2 separate regions of the Homo sapiens genome follow, and region 2 is linked to region 1. Evidence: fine-mapped QTL for protein levels in blood plasma. A gene starts in region 1. The other region holds a variant in brackets. All regions are shown on one strand. Distances are from middle to middle.

Region 1 (4,374 bases):
CATGCAACACCGCACCCAGCTAATTTTTGTATTTTTAGTAGAGACGGGGTTTCACCATGTTGGTCAGGCTGGTCTCGAACTCCTGACCTCGTGATCCACCTGCCTCAACCTCCCAAAGTGCTGGGATTACAGGCGTGAGCCACCTCGCTGGGCCAGAAGTTTTCTTAAAAAACAATACAAAACAAAACCAGAAACCCAGGACTCCCCAGCCCTCCTGTGGGTGTGGGTTTAGGAAAATCCATCTTTATTGGCCCTGCACTGCCAAGTGTAATGGACCTGACACTCCGCACCAGCTCTGCCCTAACTGGTGAGGGCCAGTAAGGAACAATACAGATGAGCGCTCTGTCCACCAGGCAAACTGCAAATTATTCTCAGTGCTAAGAAGGGAAAAAACTGAGCAGCAGAAAAATGTGTAGCCCCTTTTCTGGAGCTTTCTTTCTTATGAAGAGAGGTCTGGACTACAACGGGGGGGCTGTGTGTGTGAGGGATTCACAGCTCTAGCTTTGGATCTCCCAAAGAGGGGTCCGGAGCAGACTGTGGCACCCCAAGCCAGTCACTGAATCCCCATATTTTATGGTTAAGCAGCCAAACATGCCAATTCACTCTCTAGGCTCTGCTAGATAAACAATGCCCTTACTCAGTTACCAAAGAGGAATTAAAGCCTGTTTCTCAAGTCACCATGAGAAAGCAGAAAAGAGAGGAAGTCACTTCCGTATTAGGTGCTCGCAGCATTCATCCATGAAGCGTTTCATGATTTTCTTAAAAAATATTACTTGTTCTCAACAAAACATAGACACAAGGCTCGTCTACTCTGCACTGCAGAGGACAGAAGAGCTAAGTATTAATAAATAATCCTTCTTTGTATTTTCCAAGTTCTCTCCAATGTAAACAACTCAAGCCCAGGAAAATCCAGTATTTAACAGTGTACCAACCCTGTGCTTTCATGGGCACCGGCTTTTACCCACCCGGTGCGTCTGGCGGTGGCTGTCCAGCAGGCCGGGCACCTGCCGCCCACGGAGTTGTCCCACTGGGCACCGCAGGGCTCAAGGGCGATGGCAGCACTGGCAGCTTCTGGTCAGAGCTAGCTGATGTCCCCGCTCTGCAGACATCAGCCCAACAAAATTGCATCTCGCTGACCACAAACTGGCCACGTGGAAGTCAGCTCGAAGCTCTACCCTGAATCTCTCCTGAACTCAAAGGCTCTGAAAGCTGCCTCGACCCATGAAGGTGCACAGAGGGGCTCCCGCGGGCTGCCCACAGCCCGTCCCGGGTGCGGGGTCTGAGGGCGCAGCCGACCCCACCCTGGGCGGAGGGCGAGGCTGGGGCTCCGGCTTCGTGCCCCACGGCTCGCAAGGACCCGTCAGTACCGCCCGCACCGCTGACCCCAGCACCGAGCCCCTCACGGCTGACCCCAGCTCCTCACGGCTGCCCCCGGCCCTGCTCCCTCACGGCCGACCCGGGCCCCGTTCCCCTCACGGTCGCCGCTGGCCCTGCGCCTCTCACGGCCGACCCGGGCCCCGCTCCCCTCACGGCTGTCCCTGGCCCCAACATCCGGCACCTGCGCTCATTCCTCCCGGAACGAGCCGCCCGGGGCACCGCCACCCGGTCCGCGTCCCGGAACGGGAGACCCGGGGAAATCGGGGCGCCGGGGCCTCTGGAGGGCGCTTGCGCCGCGCCCGGGCTCCGCGCCGTCCTCACCGTGGAAGTCGCCCGTGTCGGCCACCACGGTGGTGAACTGCTTGAGCTGGTCCAGCGCGGACTCCATCCTCTGACGCTTCACGGGTGAGCTCGACATAGCAAGACCGAGGGGTCTGCGGCGGCGGCGGCGGCGACGGGACGGGCGCGCGGACGGCCCACAATGCCCCGCGGGCGGCTGCCAATCGGAAAGCGGCGCGGGAGGGCGAGGCCCGCTGGTCCCTGCGCGCCTGGACGAAGCCCCGCCCCCGGGGACGAAGCCCGAGCGCCACTGCCGGCCGCGCACCGCAGCTGCGGATCCTACAGGCTGGGTCTCCCCAGGTCCTCAGCAGCCGCCGCGGACGGGCCCGGGAAAACACCTGCACGACACGGGGCGGCTGGGCCTCGCCTCCTTCCTGCCCCGCGGGACGCACCGGGAGGGCTGGAGGAGATGGACCTGGCCCGGGTGCCGACTCTGCGGGGCTGAACCCGCCAGGGCCGAACCCGGCGATGCAGGATCCATGGTGGGGCCAGGACTGGGGTCGGGGGCCGCTGCAGGAAGCAGGGGAGGGAGCGGCGGGGGACGCCCTGCGGGTGCAGGAGGCAGAGCAGGGGGCGGCTGCAGAGCCCGGGCGCCGGACGCGGCGGGGAACCTGCTTCTGGGAATCTGTTCCCCTGAGTCCTAAGCCCAGAGGTGTCCGGGGGACCGAACGGCGAGGCAGGCGTAGGAGGCCCAGCTGCCCTGCTTCTTACCATCGCTGACTTGCAGAGTTCCTTGTATATTCTGATCAAGTCTCTGTCGCTTGTGTCTGCGTTGCAGACACTGTAACCGCCCCATGGGTTCGCCTTGCCAGCTGCCGGGACAGAGTCTATTGTCAAGACAGGGGAATTGCAATAGAGAAAGCATAATTCACACAGAGCCGATTGTTCGGGAGACCAGAGTTTTATTCCTCAAATCAGTCTCCCCAAAACTCGGGGATCCCAGTATTTAAGAATAATTTGGTGGGTAGGGGGCCAGTGAGTCAGAAGTGCTGACTGGTCAGCTAGGGATGAAATCACAGGGAGTCGAAGCTGTCCGCTTATGCTGAGTCAGTCCCTGGGTAGAGGCCACACAACTGGTTGGCAGGTCCAGGTGGGGCCATCCGGTTGTCAGAAATGCAAAAACCTGAAAAGACTTTTTTTTTTTTTTGAGACGGAATCTCGCCCTTGTTGCCCAGGCTGGAGTGCAGTGGCGCGATCTTGGCTAACTACAACCTCCGCCTCCCGGGTTCGAGCGATTTTCCTGCCTCAGCCTCCCGAGTAGCTGGAATTACAGGCGCTCACCACCACGCCCGGCTAATTTTTGTATTTTTAGTACAGACGGGGTTTCATCATGTTGGCCAGCATGGTCTCGATCTCCTGACCTCGTGATCCGCCCACCTCAGTCTCCCAAAGTGCTGGGATTCCAGGCGTGAGCCACCGCGCCCGGCGGAAAAGACTTCTTAAAAGGCAAATCCTAGGCTGACGCGGTGGCTCAGGCCTGGAATCCCAGCACATTGAAAGGCCAAAGCAGGCGATCACTTGAGGTCAGGAGTTGGAGACCAGCGTGGCCAACATGCAAAACCCCGTCTCTACTAAAAATACAAAATTAGCCAGGCGTGGTGGCACATGGCTGTAATCCCAGCTACTTGGGAGGCTGAGGCAGGAGAATGGCTTGAACCTGGGAGGTGGAGGTTGCAGTGAGCCGAGATTGTCCCTCTGTACACTAACCTGGGCTACAGAACGAGACTCCATTTAAAAAAAAAAAAAAGGCCAACCCTAGGTTCACAGTAGTGTTGATATCTTGGGGAAGTTGCAAATCTTATCTTATGACCTCCAGAATAATGGCTGATAATATTTAGACTTCCAGCCCCTCTCATTCTAACTTGGTGGCTGGTGGCCTTTCATTCATTTTACAAGAACAGTCTAGTTTTGGGGAAGGGCTATTATTTAAACTATAAATTAAATTCCTTCCCAAGACTTGTTTGGCCTATGGCCAGTAATGGACAAGGACCGTTTGAAGGTTAGAAACAAGATGGAATTGGTTAAGTCTGTTATCTTTCACTGTCATAATTTCCTTAGTTATAATTTTGCAAAGGTGGTTTCAATACTTCCTCTCAGCATGTGTTCCCTTTTCATTTTAATAGTGTCTTTAATGAACGTTAGCTTTTTATTTTGATTAAGTTCAATTTATCAAGTTTTAATTTTATATTTACTCCTCTTTTTTGGTATCTTCTCTAAGGAGTCTTTGCTTGCTCCAAAGTGACAAATTTTTTTTTTTTTCTGGTGAGATGGAGATTTACTCTTGTTGCCCAGGCTGGAGTGCAATGGCGCGATCTCAGCTCACCGCATCCTCCGCCTCCCAGGTTCAAGCGATTCTCCTGCCTCAGCCTCCCGAGTAGCTGGGATTACAGGCATGGGCCACCATGCCCGGCTACTTTTGTATTTTTAGTAGAGACGGGGTTTCACCGTGTTGCCCAGGCTGATCTCAAACTCCTGACCTCGTGTTCCACCTGCCTCGGCCTCCCAAAGTGCTGGGATTACAGGTGTTAAGCAACTGCGCCCGGCCAACGCCCAGCTAACTTTTGTATTTTTAGTAGAGACAGAGTTTCACCGTGTTAGCCAGGATGGTCTCAATCTCCTGACCTCGTGATCCGCCCACCCTAGTCTCCCAAAGTGCTG
Region 2 (4,310 bases), 35 kb after region 1:
GGTCAGGCGTTGGGGACCAGCCTGGCCAACATGGTGAAACCCCATCTGTACTAAAAATACAAAAATTAGGCCAGGCACGGTGGCTCACGCCTGTAATCCCACCACTTTGGGAGGCTGAGGTGGGTGGATCAATTGAGGTCAGGAGTTCAAGACCAGCCTGGCCAACATGGTGAAACCCCATCTCTGCTAAAGATATAAAAAATTAGCTGGGTGTGGTGGTGCGTGCCTGTAATCCCAGGTACTGGGGAGGCTGAGGCAGGAGAATCACTTGAACCCTTGAGGCGGAGGTTGCAGTGAACCAAGATCACGCCACCGCACTCCAGCCTAGGTGACAGGGTGAGACTCTGTCTCAGAGAAAAAAAAATTTAGCCAGGCGTGGTGGCGGGCGCCTGTAGTCCCAGCTACTCAGGAGGCTGAGGCAGGAGAATGGTTTGAACCTGGGAGGCAGAGGTTGCAGTGAGCTGAGATCGCGCCATTGCACTCCAGCCTGGGTGACAGAGCGAGACTCCGTCTCAAACACACAAACAAACAGAAACTGTGGTGATGAAGGCAGGCAGGTGTTGCCAGAGGTTGGGGGTAGCCACCAAGGTCGGGGATTCACAGGTTTGGAGTGATGGGGCTGATGGGTCGACTATGGTGGCAACAGAACCACACCCCCACGTACACATGGCTTTTACTGTGTGATAACTTAGAAAAAAGCAAACCATGGACCCGGGCTCAGGTGCCCCCCACCCACTGTCAGGGCCAATCTGATCCGGCCCCCACCTGGCTGGAGAGACTTCCCACCAGACTCTCACCCTCTCTCTGGTCCCCAGTGTCCTCATCGGGGAGAGGCAGGAAAGCCCCACCCACCCTCCACTCCTCACTCTGTTGGCCTCTGGGCAGACGAGGCTCCTGCTGGCTGGGGGCCAGGCCAGGCCAGCTGGGGCCAAAGTCCAGGAGCCAGGCTGAGAGGCCCCAGGCTCCTCCCGAAGAGGGCAGAGTCCCTGAGAAAGGTGGTGGAGCTGCCCAGGAAGAGGGGACTAAAGTGAACTCGGCCACTGCTCTGTGCCTTCCCCTGGACACTGAGCTGGCCGAAGTCACCAGCCTGGCTGTATGCAGGGTCTAGCTGCCCAGGCTGCTGGGAGGGCCCTGGTCACCCAAAACAGCCCGATTCAAGAGCTCAGGGACTCCTGATGGCTCTTTGGACCCATTGTACAGACGAGGAAACTGAGGCTCAAAGAGTAGTGACCTGTCTCACCTCTGCAGGTGTGGAGGACAGCAAGGGGGAACCAGGGGGCATTTTGGGCCCCCAGCCAGGGCTGTTTGTGGCAGAAAGGACTGGTCCTGCAGGAGGACCCAGCTCCAGGCTCCCTCACCCTCCCTCCTTTTCCTAGTCCTGTAGGCTTGGACCACAACCGGAAGCCCAGCTCGCACCCAGGCTTGGACGACAACCGGGAGCCCAGCTCGCACCCAGGCTTGGACGACAACCGGGAGCCCAGCTCGCACCCAGGCTTGGACGACAACCGGGAGCCCAGCTCGCACCCAGGCTTGGACCACAACCGGGAGCCCAGCTCGCACCCAGGCTTGGACCACAACCGGGAGCCCAGCTCGTACCCAGGCGCAGGGGCCTTTTTTTTTTTCCTTTTGAGATGGAGTCTCGCCCTGTCCCCCAGGCTGGAGTGCAGTGGCGCAATCCCGGCTCACTGCAACCTCCATTTCCCGGGTTCTAGTGATTCTCCTGTCTCAGCTTCCCAAGTAGCTGGGACTACAGGCTCCCACCACCACGTCCAGCTAAGTTTTGTAGTTTTAGTAGAGATGGGGTTTCACCATGTTGGTCAGGCTGGTCTCGAACTCCTGACGTCAGGTGATCCACCCGCCTCGGCCTCCCAAAGTGCTGGGATTACAGGTATGAACAACCGCGCCTGGTCCCTTTTTTTTTTCTCTTTTTTGAGATGGAGTCTCGCTCTGTTGCCCATGCTGGAGTGCAGTGGTGTGATCTCGGCTCACTGCAACCTCCGCCTCCTGGGTTCCAGTGATTCTCCTGCCTCAGCCTCCCGAGTAGCTGGGATTATAGGTATGCACCACGACGCCTGGCTAATTTTGTATTTTCAGTAGACATGAGGTTTTGCCATGTTGGTCAGGCTGGTCTCAAACTCCTAACCTCAGATGATCCACTCACCTCAGCCTCCCAAAGTGCTGGGATTACAGGCGTGAGCCACCGCGCCTGGCCTAAGACTCTGTTGCCCAGGCTGCTGGAGGGCCGTGGTGGGATCCTCCTGCCTGAGCCTCCCAAGTAGCTGGACTACGAGCTCACACTACCAGGCCTGGCTAGGAGGGGGGAGGATTGCTTGAGCCTAGGAGTTTGAGACCAGCCTGGGCAACATAGGGAGACTTCCATCTCCACAAAAAAATAAAATAATTAGATGGGCATGGTGGGGCCAGCCTGTAGGCCCAGCTACTGGGGAGGCTGAGGTGAGGGGATCACTTGAGTCCAGGAGGCGGAGGCTGTAGTGAGCCAAGATCGCACCACTGCACTCCAGCCTGGGCACCTGGGTGACAGAGCTAGACCCTGTCTCAAAATGAAAGAAAGAAAAGAAAAGAGAGAGACAGAGAGAGAGAGAAAGAAAGGAAGAAAAAAAGACACACACACACACACACACACGCACGCACGCACACACGCACACACGCACACAAAACCCCCCAAAAAAACATTTCCTGAGTTCTCCGTGTCAATGAAACTGACCTAGGAGAACAGAAAAGCCCTCAGGGCTGGCGGCTGGTCCGGCGCGTGCAGGCAGCCCCGTCTGAGCCCTGAGAAGCAGCCCGGGCCTCCCTGAATCCCCCATCAAGGGCGTCTTTGTT[C/A]TGCCTGCTCCCTCCCGATACAGTTCCTCGTTTTGGGGCCAGGATGATCATCTCCTCCAGGGGCTCTTCCCATCCAGGGCTGGGCAGCAGCCACAGTGTTTTCCCGGCACACCCTGGGCTGCCTCACCCCCCAGGCCGCGAGTTCCCAGGACTGGAACCAGAGGGGCGCTTTCCCCGGCCCCGTGGCTGAGCCCGGGACAGTGTGGGCAGTTCTGGCTCTGGCCTCCCCCGGCCCCGTGGGTGTCAGAAGCTGGGCTGACCACTCTCCCTGGAGCTTTCCTCCCTTCCTCCCTTCCTCCCTTTCTCTCTTTCTCTCTTTCTCTCTTTCGTTTTGAGACAGGGTCTAGCTCTGTCACCCAGGTGCCCAGGCTGGAGTGCAGTGGTGCGATCTTGGCTCACTACAGCCTCCGCCTCCCGGGCTCAAGTGACCCCCTCGCCTCAGCCTCCCCAGTAGCAGGGCCTACAGGCCGGCACCACCATGCCCGTCTAATTATTTTATTTTTTGTGGAGACGAGAACCTGAGGACAGCCATGTCCTGAGGGTGCTCCCTGGGGGCGGAGCCTACCTGGGGGCGGGGCCTTACCTGGACGTGGTACTGCGAGGTCTCGTGCATGATGACGTTGGAGTTGGAATACTTCTTCCTCTGCTCTGAACCGGGAGACACCAGTCACTCCCCCGACGGGCAGGACCCACAGCCTCCCGTCCAGTTGGGACTGGACCCACAAGGGAAGGTGGAGTCAAGCGGAGGGAGGCTGCTCCGTGGACCTCTTGGCCACCAGGAAGGATGTGGGTGTGAAATCAGGACCTGCAGGAAGCCCCCTCCCTCCCTCCAGGGAAGCCCCCTTGGAGAAGGACGCAGCTCGGAGAAGGCGATGGGCTTGCTCTGAGTGGAGTGGGGACCAGCAGCCTGTGCCCGGGGGGTTTCTGTCCCGGAGGGTGAGGGGACAGGAAGGGGGTCCCAGCCCGGCTTCTTCCCACTCTGAGAGCTGCCAGCTTCACTCTCCCTGCCCTCCCAGGTCTTCTCGCTTTCCAGACTAGGCACCTTGTCCAAAGACATAAGTGAAGGGTGCATCTAGCTAGCGAGAGGGCAGGGTCGTCTCTGGGGAAGGGCAGAGTGGGGGGAGGTGGGGGCTGGCCAGGCCCCCCTCCTGGAGCAGACACCTGGCGGCTTATCCTGCCTGAACCTCGCTGTGATCAGGTTACAGCAATGAGTGCAGCGGAATCAATATTGATGCTCCCTGAATTATTAGTAAAGGCCTCTCCCCTTACGGGTGTGGGGGAGGGGATCCAGTGGCCAGGAGCTTTCGGAAGGTTGATTAGGGTCCAGAGGCCTCCCTGGGCACCCGGAGATCCCCTGGGCCAGACCAGGCACAGCTGTGGGGCAGGAGCAGCTGTCCCCCACCTGGATGCAGTGCCCATTTCTCCCCTGTGACGTCCAGCCCGTTCTCAAACCTCACTCACCAAAC

Direction of the effects. Alleles are on the strand shown, and positions count from the first base shown. The strength of an association depends on the size of the effect and on how common the allele is.
For the plasma level of the protein whose gene starts at base 1,813 in region 1, allele C in region 2 goes with a lower level than allele A (weak association).

Evidence for each region. PIP is the chance, under the fine-mapping model, that this variant and not a neighbour inherited with it causes the effect. The UK Biobank Pharma Proteomics Project read protein levels with antibody pairs (Olink). The fine-mapping took linkage between variants from a reference panel, not from the people measured, so its PIPs are less certain.
Region 2: its variant is fine-mapped to the plasma level of the TALDO1 protein (UK Biobank, PIP above 0.99).

Annotation. Positions count from the first base shown.
Region 1 is chr11:744,903-749,276 of GRCh38, reverse strand. It overlaps TALDO1 (transaldolase 1), which reads right to left and starts at 1,813. Exons shown (of 8, transcript NM_006755.2): 1 at 1,699-1,813. The coding sequence starts at 1,795. LOC105376509 (a long non-coding RNA gene) reads right to left here. Exons shown (of 3, transcript XR_930962.3): 3 at 2,315-2,528. RefSeq lists silencers at 1,213-1,302, 1,403-1,692, 1,753-2,352 and enhancers at 1,532-2,180, 2,483-2,542, 2,181-2,829.
Region 2 is chr11:709,604-713,913 of GRCh38, reverse strand. It overlaps EPS8L2 (EPS8 signaling adaptor L2), which reads right to left. Exons shown (of 21, transcript NM_022772.4): 3 at 4,306-4,310; 4 at 3,428-3,492. Among named protein-coding and RNA genes, the nearest start is that of EPS8L2, 5.5 kb to the right of the region's middle. RefSeq lists an enhancer at 3,278-4,205. The variant C/A (reference allele first, on the strand shown) is at 2,845.